3 separate regions of the Homo sapiens genome follow, and all the other regions are reported to be linked to region 2. Evidence: microRNA targets listed by miRTarBase, many of them from high-throughput screens and not tested one by one. Region 2 holds a microRNA gene; each other region holds the end of a gene's coding sequence.

What was found. Region 2 holds the annotated microRNA hsa-miR-203b-5p (UAGUGGUCCUAAACAUUUCACA, at 859-880, opposite strand). A microRNA usually pairs through its seed, bases 2 to 8, with sites in the 3' UTR of a target mRNA and lowers its output. Matches are read on the target gene's strand: a 7mer-m8 pairs with bases 2 to 8, a 7mer-A1 pairs with bases 2 to 7 and ends in A, and an 8mer does both.
Region 1: the mRNA of UTRN is a reported target of hsa-miR-203b-5p. Seed matches in the 3' UTR shown: 7mer-m8 at 778-784 and 7mer-m8 at 1,079-1,085.
Region 3: the mRNA of NLGN4X is a reported target of hsa-miR-203b-5p. Seed matches in the 3' UTR shown: 7mer-m8 at 1,492-1,498.

What each region holds. Positions count from the first base shown.
Region 1 is chr6:144,850,603-144,853,858 of GRCh38, forward strand. It overlaps UTRN (utrophin), which reads left to right. Exons shown (of 75, transcript NM_007124.3): 75 at 387-2,432. The coding sequence ends at 395. Among named protein-coding and RNA genes, the nearest start is that of TRQ-TTG4-1, 330 kb to the right of the region's middle.
Region 2 is chr14:104,116,610-104,119,865 of GRCh38, forward strand. MIR203B (microRNA 203b) reads right to left here and starts at 894; the gene lies at 809-894. It overlaps MIR203A (microRNA 203a), which reads left to right and starts at 796; the gene lies at 796-905.
Region 3 is chrX:5,890,107-5,893,323 of GRCh38, reverse strand. NLGN4X (neuroligin 4 X-linked) reads left to right here. Exons shown (of 6, transcript NM_181332.3): 6 at 1-3,217. The coding sequence ends at 507. Among named protein-coding and RNA genes, the nearest start is that of LINC03070, 170 kb to the right of the region's middle.

The sequences.
Region 1 (3,256 bases), not on the chromosome of region 2:
TCAAGATGGTTGGCATTGTTAGGGTACCCCCTCTACAGATGACCTCCCACAGTCCCCCAGGAAGACATGGGATATTTTCACCAGCCTCATTCGCTCACCATTGGTACCTTCAGCAGAAAGAAATGAAGTCCTCTCCATTTTAACTTTGCTTCCAGCCTGGCCAAGAGAAAAGACTTTCAGACTTCCCTCTAAATCAGCTGCAGTGATAGAAAGCAGACTAGGTAACTTCAGCATGAGAGGGAGGGACCTCATTGCAGGAAGCAAAAGTCACAGTAGAGTTAAGACTCTTGAAAGAAGCACTTTTATTTTCTTGAAGAATTGACAGATCTCTGCTTCCTGTAATGTTTTGTGCAAATTTCTGACAGTGCTATTTTCCCTTCCCATAGGCAATGTGAAGTATTCATCCGGCCAACCAATGTTTCCTGACGTACAGTGTTGCCCTTTTCAGCAAATGCCAATTCCAAGTTCCATTAAATCAGAAGCTCCATGGCTCCTTGGCCCACGATGTTGAGTGCTGACTGTGTGTTCTACTGAAAGAGTAAAACACTGACTATCCAAAGAGAAATGGATATTTTGTTTTTATAATAACCATATATTATTGTTTTCTTCTTCCCTTTCTATGCAAGTGTAAATTAATGAACAGAGAGGTATTTGGAAATGGTAATACATTTGTCACGGATTTGTATAATGTATACAGCATTGGGAAAGTGGGTGGGGGCTTTCTAATATGATACCGTCTTTTTAATAACTATGACAAAGCTTACATAAGAATTAGAAGACCACTTTACATTTTTACATTCCTTCTGCTGTTCATATTAACCTTGCACAATTACTTCATTTTTTCTTTGACTCTTTTACCACAATGTTTTGGTTATTTATAATTTATCAGCCATATGTTTATCAGCCATATAACCAACTAGATCCCAAATAGATCCATGTATTTGTTTCCGTGATTTGGCCACATTAATAAATTCATAAATTTCAATCAAATATCTTATATATACACACATATGGTTTAAGCTACAGCCCTGTGTATGCCGTTTAACTTTATTTGACGTTGCCCACTTACTTCTTTGCTGACCACTTGGATAACCGTAATAAAAATCCTATAAGCCTAAATGGCATTTCTTTTGGGATATTTTTCCTGCATTTTATTCCCTTTTTATATAAGTAGGAATTAATTATTTATTTTATGTCTTAATCTATTTGATAAAGAAGACTACATTATAATAATCTCAAAGATCATATTACCAAAGGTTGCCCACTTGAGCATATTTTCATTTTGACACAGAAACAAAATTTAGTACAACCTTTCCTAGTTCCCATGTCTTGATTTTCATCATTACATGCACAGCAGACCTTTACCTATTGTGATACCAGAACACATCATTGTCTTTGGTTCCCTTCAAAGAGAATTTTATTGTTGTTTTGTATTTTCAAGTCCTTAATAGTTCTTGAAACTCCTAGTTGTTTTCTTGTTGAAAGCAGACACACATTTAGTGCACGGCTTATTTTACCTTTCGGGTGAAAGATCAGATGTTTTTATACCCTTCACTTGATCAATATATTTGGAAAGAATGTTTATCAAAAGTCTATGTCACTGCTTCTACAGAAGAATGAAATTAATGCTTAGGTGATGGTACCTCCACCTACATCTTTTTGAGTGCATTCAATTATGTATTTTGGTTTAGCTTCTGATTTAACATTTAATTGATTCAGTTTAAACATGTTACTTAATTAGCAAATGTAGAGGAACCAAAAAAAGGTGAAAATAATATGTTTTGATTCAAACCTAAAGACATAAAAACATAAAGACATTTTAACTTTGGGTTCTCTTTAGCTGGGATCTGGCCAGAAGGAGGCTTAAAGTTAGAAATTGCTATTATTTTAGAATAGGTTGGGTGGGTTGGGGGGCAAGGGTGTCTATTTGCAGCAGAGATATTTTGAAAAGAAGAAAATTGTTTTATATAAAAAGGAAAGCCATGACCACCTTTCTACCTCAGATCCATCTTCATCCATTGCATTGGAAACTGCTTTATGCTGCTGCAGTCTGCAAAGTCTAGAGCTTTTATCAGGCCATGTCATACCCAAGAAAGCACCTATTTAAAGAAAAAACAATTCCCTGAGCTCTCAACTCCAAGTTGTAGATTTGGTGTCTTCCTTGTTCTTACTTTAAAAAGTCATGTGTTAATTTTTTTTCTGCCTGTATTTGTATGCAAAATGTCCTCTATCTGCTATTAAAGAAAAGCTACGTAAAACACTACATTGTAACCTTCTAAGTAATAATAAATAAAAAGAAATATATTGCAGTAACAATGGGAAGTAAGTATGTAGTTCTTTTGAAATATGTGGTAAAGAACTAATCACAGACTATCATCTAATCTGGTTACATATTGTATTTTTCATCCTGAATAAAAGTAATTTTAACACAAGATGACTTTGATATTCTTCAGCTGGATTCACTGATAGAATGTGAGTTTTGAATGCACATTTATGAAAACAAGATATAGAGATAGCCTGTGTCCTGATACATCTACATTTTTTCCTGCAGTTTCTCTCATACACACTAATACAGTCTCCTGTTGCTCTCATTCTCTCTCTCTCCCCATCTCTTACACATACATATAATTATATGATTCTCAATTTATTTTCCAGATAGAAGGTTTATTGATAGAGAAAAGTAATATTGGATGTAAAAATGTGTACATAAAACCTGTTGAGTGTTTTAATAACTAGATGCTGTTGACATTAAGTTCCTTTCAAATGTACTTTTAGTTTCATGCTCTCAAATACTGTATGCTTTTTATCCGTACACTGGATTTTAACCACTCTAGTAGGTTTAATCAATTTCTGAAGCCATTCAGTGGGAAACAATGTTGAGAATCATGTTGCTTTATTCTAAAATTAAAAGCTGTCTATGAACTAGAAAAATCATCTAAAATATAATTTGTTAAAATAAAGAAAACTGATACATTCTGATGAACAAACATTTTAAACATCCTGTGTACCACTAAGTAATGCTGACATTAAGCATTCCTGAAAAAACACTTGATTTCCAGCAACTTGTTGACTAGGTAGCTGAAAATAGAAGTGCGAACAAATGAACAAGTTTTGCTTTCATACTGCTGTGGTTTGAATGTGTCACCCACAGTTCATGTGTTGAAAATTTAATCCCCGATTCCATAGTGTTGAGGGGTTGGACCTTTAAGAAGTGATTGGATCATGAGGTCAGAGGTCATGAATGGATTAATGTCAT
Region 2 (3,256 bases):
TCTTTACCCCTCCCCTTCCCCCTCCCACGAAGTTCCCTTTGAAGTGAGAGGGGCTGGGGTGGGTGTGTCCAGCCCAGCCCCCACACCCACCGGAGAGCTAGCGCGGCCCTGGGCTCCTGTCGGGCGCTGGTCCTCACCTGTTCCGGCCACCCTGGGCCTCGACCCGGCCAAGGTGGAGCCCCGGGCCCTCCGTGCGCCCGAGCACCCCCGGCCCAGACGAGACGGTTCGGGCGTGGCCCGGCGGGGACCCAGAACCCGGGAGGCCAGGTGCGCCCAGGCCAGGCGCTGGAGGCTGGGGCGCCGGATGGGGCGGGGCGGCCGCTGAGTCAGGGCCACCCCCGCGCGGGCGCGCGGAGCAGGTCCCCGGGCCGTGGAGGATCAGTCGCGGGACCTATGGGCCCGGGAGCCGCCCCGCCCGGAAAAACCGGTCGGGCCAGCGCGGCGCGGGCACATTCCGGCGCCGGGAAGGGCGGCTGCGCCGCATAAAAGGCGCCGCCGCGCTGGCCACCGCCGCTCGGAGCTCAGCCGCCCTGCCACGCGGGGCCCGCGGGACGAGGGGACGCCGGGGCCAGCGAGGACGCGGCGGGGCTGGGCTTGGCGGCTGGGATCCCCCAGCGCCAGGCGAGGGCGTCTAAGGCGTCCGGTACGGCGTCGGGGCCGGGTGGCTGCAGCAGGGCAGGGGGTGCGCGACCAGCGGGGATCTGGGCGCAGGGGCCGGTCCCCGGGATCCGCAGGCGACGCGGGCGGTCCCAAGGGCGTCGGGGGCTCCTCTCTCCGCAGCTCGGCGAACCGACGGTGTTGGGGACTCGCGCGCTGGGTCCAGTGGTTCTTAACAGTTCAACAGTTCTGTAGCGCAATTGTGAAATGTTTAGGACCACTAGACCCGGCGGGCGCGGCGACAGCGACGGAGCGTCCCACGCGCGGCCTGGAGTCAGAGTCACAGTCAGGGGTGCGCCGGCGACCAATCCAGGGGAGCCCACGGACCGGCTCCGCGCTCCAGGTCGGCCGCCCCATGCGCCGCGCCCCGCAGTCCCCAGGGCCTGGCTGGCTCCACCTGCTGCCAGGGAAGACCCTCGGCCGGAGAGCCAAGTGCTGCTGGGAGGTGGCCGGGCGTGGCCGGGCTGTGCTGTGGGAACCGCTGGGTGGGGGCGCGCTGGGTTGCCCACGCTCCTGGCGCGCTGCCGGCCTGGAGACGCCGCCGCCGCCCTCTTGCACCCCGAGGGCCCGCACCTCGAAACTCCGTGGAATTCCCAGCGAGGAACTGGCGGTGGGCCCGTAGGGTTGAGGAGCGCTCCTTGCCCTGGGCTTCCTGGGAGCTGCCCATCAGGCTGCCGGCAGCCGCACCCTGCTGGGCGGCCGATGGTTCCCGCTGCCGGCTCCCCGGAGCGTCTCCACTCACTGAGGCCTTAGGGAGCGCTGCGCGGCTCCTACGAGTGCGCGCTAAACTCGTGAAGGACCTCGAGGCACAGGAACTGGGGGTGGGGAGGAAGTTTGCAGACTACACCCAGGTAGAGGAGAAGCGGCGCCCATGATGACAGGTGCCTTCGCCGGAGCCTCCCTGGAACCTCGTGGTAGCTAGCGCCCACAGGAGAGGTGTGCGCGTCAATCTGCGTGTGAAGCCCCGGGCGGCCCTGGGAGGGACTCAGCAAAGGGTCGAATCTGTCCCCACCTCCAGCCAGGGGCCGGGGTCTTCTGCCTGGTGCTGCCTGGCCTGCTGTGTCCTCTGGGGTGGAGGGTCCCCCTCCAGTCCCCACCTCCTCACCCAGTGTTTAGAGAGCTGCGGGGAGTCCTGGGAGATGGGTCAGACAGGCCTGGGTTTGAGGCCTGCTAGGGTGGCCTTGGGCCAGTCACCTGCCCTCTCTGAGCCCGACCTGCACACATAGGGGGTTGATGTGAGGAGACAGGAGGTGACTGTGGAGGGCTGTTCCAGAAGAGGGCCAGCAGCAGGACAGCAAGGTCCCCTGGCCACCCAGGTGGGGGGAGTGGAGTTCCCGGGAGAGCATCCACCACTGGCCAGTGCCTCCTCTGTTGCTCAGCAAATGCCATTGTGGCCACCTCTCAGGATCTGGCTTCAGAGCTTGGGGCCGTGGGAGCGCCCAGTGGGTCTGTGGCATCGGAGGGGTTGGAGTGTCTTCCCCAGCTGCTGCCTGCTGACCACCGCAGCCCCCTGTAGCCATTTCATTTTACAAGCACGTTCCCCCGTGCCCTCTGCATGGGCCCTCAGCCCTCAGCAGCCCCGTGAGAGGGGCTGAGGCTCAGGTGGGAGATGGCGGCTGTGTCCCTGTTCTGCGGCTTGGAGGCATTCTGTCCGGTGTGCGTCTGTACAATTTAGACTGATGACAATAAACATGTTCCAAAGCATCGCTGTGTCCCTGGGGTGCTTGTCCTTTTCCCCCAGGCCTCAGCGTGGTTTCTCCCTTGAAAGCAAGCCAGCCTTTTCCTTCTAATCTCAGAGAAGCAGAAATGAGGATGGTTGGTGGAGGGGCAGTGGCCTGGTCCTTACCCAAGACCCTCCCTCAACTCTGCCTCTGGCACTTTGGTCTCCAGGGAAGCCCCCAGCCTCTGCCACCAGCTTTCTCGTTGCAGTGACCTCCCCTGGGCCACTGGGCCAGACCCCCTCCCTCGGGTTTGAGCTGCACTGCCTCAAGGAGCCAGGCTGGGGAAAGGGCTTGGCTCCCAGGGGCCCCACTTTCAGGGGCTCCAGCCTGCTCCCACTCCCCCCACTCACCACAACACTGCTCCCTTGGCTGGCTCCCACTCATTCCCGCTGGAGCCTGTAGGCTGGCCCTGGGGACCTGGCCAGGAGAATGGGCAAGGTGGGAGGGTTGAGGGATTGAAGAGACAGAGGCACCTTCCTCCACCCTCCCTGCCTCTGGCACAGGGGACCGAGAGTCTGTCGTGCATTCAAACCCCAGCTCTATGCCTACAAGCAAGTGACCTTGGCAAGTCCCTTATCCCCTCGGAGGACCTGTTTCTTCCTTCTGTAGGATGACGTGGAGCTCGCTGGAGGTTCCCCTGACATGATGCAGCACACTTCCTGAGTGCTCAGCAGGGCAGAGCTCAAGCTGTCACTGGAGCTGATGTGGTGGGAGGGCCAGTGGGGGATCCTTGAAGAGGCCGAATTTCAGCCAGGGCCTCGGAGGACCAATGGAAGGCCTCAGGTGGCAATGAGGTGTGGTCTTACAACAGGCCCCTACTTGGTCCCTGGGGACACCAGGAGGACAGGCCCCTACTTTGCTGAGACTAGACCTGTGCT
Region 3 (3,217 bases), not on the chromosome of region 2:
CACTCTAAGGACCCTCACAAAACAGGGCCTGAGGACACAACTGTCCTCATTGAAACCAAACGAGATTATTCCACCGAATTAAGTGTCACCATTGCCGTCGGGGCGTCGCTCCTCTTCCTCAACATCTTAGCTTTTGCGGCGCTGTACTACAAAAAGGACAAGAGGCGCCATGAGACTCACAGGCGCCCCAGTCCCCAGAGAAACACCACAAATGATATCGCTCACATCCAGAACGAAGAGATCATGTCTCTGCAGATGAAGCAGCTGGAACACGATCACGAGTGTGAGTCGCTGCAGGCACACGACACACTGAGGCTCACCTGCCCGCCAGACTACACCCTCACGCTGCGCCGGTCGCCAGATGACATCCCACTTATGACGCCAAACACCATCACCATGATTCCAAACACACTGACGGGGATGCAGCCTTTGCACACTTTTAACACCTTCAGTGGAGGACAAAACAGTACAAATTTACCCCACGGACATTCCACCACTAGAGTATAGCTTTGCCCTATTTCCCTTCCTATCCCTCTGCCCTACCCGCTCAGCAACATAGAAGAGGGAAGGAAAGAGAGAAGGAAAGAGAGAGAGAAAGAAAGTCTCCAGACCAGGAATGTTTTTGTCCCACTGACTTAAGACAAAAATGCAAAAAGGCAGTCATCCCATCCCGGCAGACCCTTATCGTTGGTGTTTTCCAGTATTACAAGATCAACTTCTGACCCTGTGAAATGTGAGAAGTACACATTTCTGTTAAAATAACTGCTTTAAGATCTCTACCACTCCAATCGATGTTTAGTGTGATAGGACATCACCATTTCAAGGCCCCGGGTGTTTCCAACGTCATGGAAGCAGCTGACACTTCTGAAACTCAGCCAAGGACACTTGATATTTTTTAATTACAATGGAAGTTTAAACATTTCTTTCTGTGCCACACAATGGATGGCTCTCCTTAAGTGAAGAAAGAGTCAATGAGATTTTGCCCAGCACATGGAGCTGTAATCCAGAGAGAAGGAAACGTAGAAATTTATTATTAAAAGAATGGACTGTGCAGCGAAATCTGTACGGTTCTGTGCAAAGAGGTGTTTTGCCAGCCTGAACTATATTTAAGAGACTTTGTAAAAAAGAAAAATGTATATAGCTGTGAGTTTAAACAAAAACCACAAACAGACAAACAAGAAAAAAAGCTTTTATTGGTGTTTTCACTTTGAAAGAGCTTTTAGCAAGGTTGTGCTTTTCATTGTGCTCTGTACGTATATAAATATATATATATATACACACACACACACACATTAGTCATATCACCTCTGTTTCCTCCCCAACAAAAGAGGCTTTTCTTCTTAATTACTTGTGGTAAACAAAGACATGGGATTTTCTTACATGAGATTCTCATTTGTAGGAGGATGTGATGTCCCACAGAAGACCCAGACGGTCTGTGTGGCCTATTTCCCCCGTCAGGTTGCACAGGTGCATGCAAGAGCATTCTTAGGAGACCACTGTTTTGAAAAACTTTTGACTTGTACGTGTTAGCCTTCATGAAATTGCAGTACAGAGATGGGTCCCCAAAGTGGAGTGTATTTACAGCTTGTTAAATTAGAGACATGCACACACAAAGAATCAGTAGGGAGAAACAAAAATACAAGTCCCGTTCTGTAGCTCTGGCCCTTTGAATATGTTTAGGAAGAGTTGCTTCCCATTTCAGGGCCCTGCCAAAAAAAGAAGAAAGCTTGCCTTTGGTGGGGCTATGCCCCTTGGAGTAAATACGGCTCTGTGTTCCCTAGCAGCTGCGGGAGGGTTTGGCCGATGAAGTACCTGCTCAGCTTAGCTAATCAGATTGAAGGAAGACATGTGTCTTTCCTTTTTGTTTAAGCACTCGGTCCCTTATTTATCAGTAAGCAGGTTTTTAAAAATCTTTTATATCATTTATGGGATCAAACATATGATTGTCTGAAAACATCACTTTTTGTGGATTTGTGTATCCGGTCACCAAACGGTGAATATTATAGAAGAATGGGGGAAGAAAGGATAGAATATTAAAACTGCTTTGCATGGGTTTTCTGGGAAATTAGGATAACTTCACTGAGAAGACATTGAATGGAAATTATTCACCCATTTTAAATTGGTGACCTAGGGATCAGAGATTTGTCTTTCCAACAGCTTGTCATTTTTTCATTTCTCTTCTCATTTTTCAGGAAAGTTTTGAGTGTTATAAGGTGGAAGGAAACATAGTAGCAATGGATACTTTTTTGAAAAATTATTGCATTACCAAGAAACAGTAGCCAAAGATATTTGAAGATCATGTTCCTCGGCTCCATTGTGGGTTATTCTAGAAATCCAGTCTTAAATCTCTCCGCTAAAGTGGACATTCCCCATAAAAATTGTCCAGCTGCCTGGCTCTTTTGCAATAACAACCTTTGATTACTGAATCCCTACACTCAAACTATAGTGATATATCAGTGTTTGAGAGTGACCTCTAGAAAAAAGAAAAGTGTTTTTAGAAATGCGTACAAGTCACCCCCAAATCCTATTGCTTATCTTGGGTTAAATTTGAGAGTGATTCTCTGTATATAAATATGTGAAATATTATTATCTCAACTTAGCACACGTGAAGCAACATTTCTTTCCTACAGAGAGGTGTCATGGTAAGATTTCATTCCGAATTCATTGTTTCATAGAGCTATGATCAGGCCATTTCTGCAAGCAATGTATGACCCCACCTGAGCAACCACAAATAGGCTCTCTGTGAAACTACAAAGGAAGTTATGTGTGGCATCCATGTTGGTTTCGTCTGTCTGTAATGTGAATTCCAGTATTTGTTTAGTATTTCCAGTTGTCTCCTGCTAGCAATATGTACAGTAACGCGTCAGGCTTGTGACATTTGAATAAGGAAAAACAGAGTTCCTGTTAAGTGAATAACTTTAGCTTTTACAGGGGATTATGATCAAAAGTGATTTTAGTACATCTTAAATGATATCTTATTTCTACATGGAAAGAAGTTATAGAATCTTCATAGAGTTCTATGAGAAAAAATATACTTGCTATCTATAAAAAAGAGAAAAAAGAAAAAAAATGAGAAAAAAGTAAGAAAAAAAAAAATCCTGTCCTAGGCTTTTACTCTTGATCTTCAAAGGCACGCAGGGTTTAATGGTTCCTTGGGTTATTATTTTGCAGTTTTGTTTTTTATTTTGCCTTAAGTAATGATAGAAGATATATATGG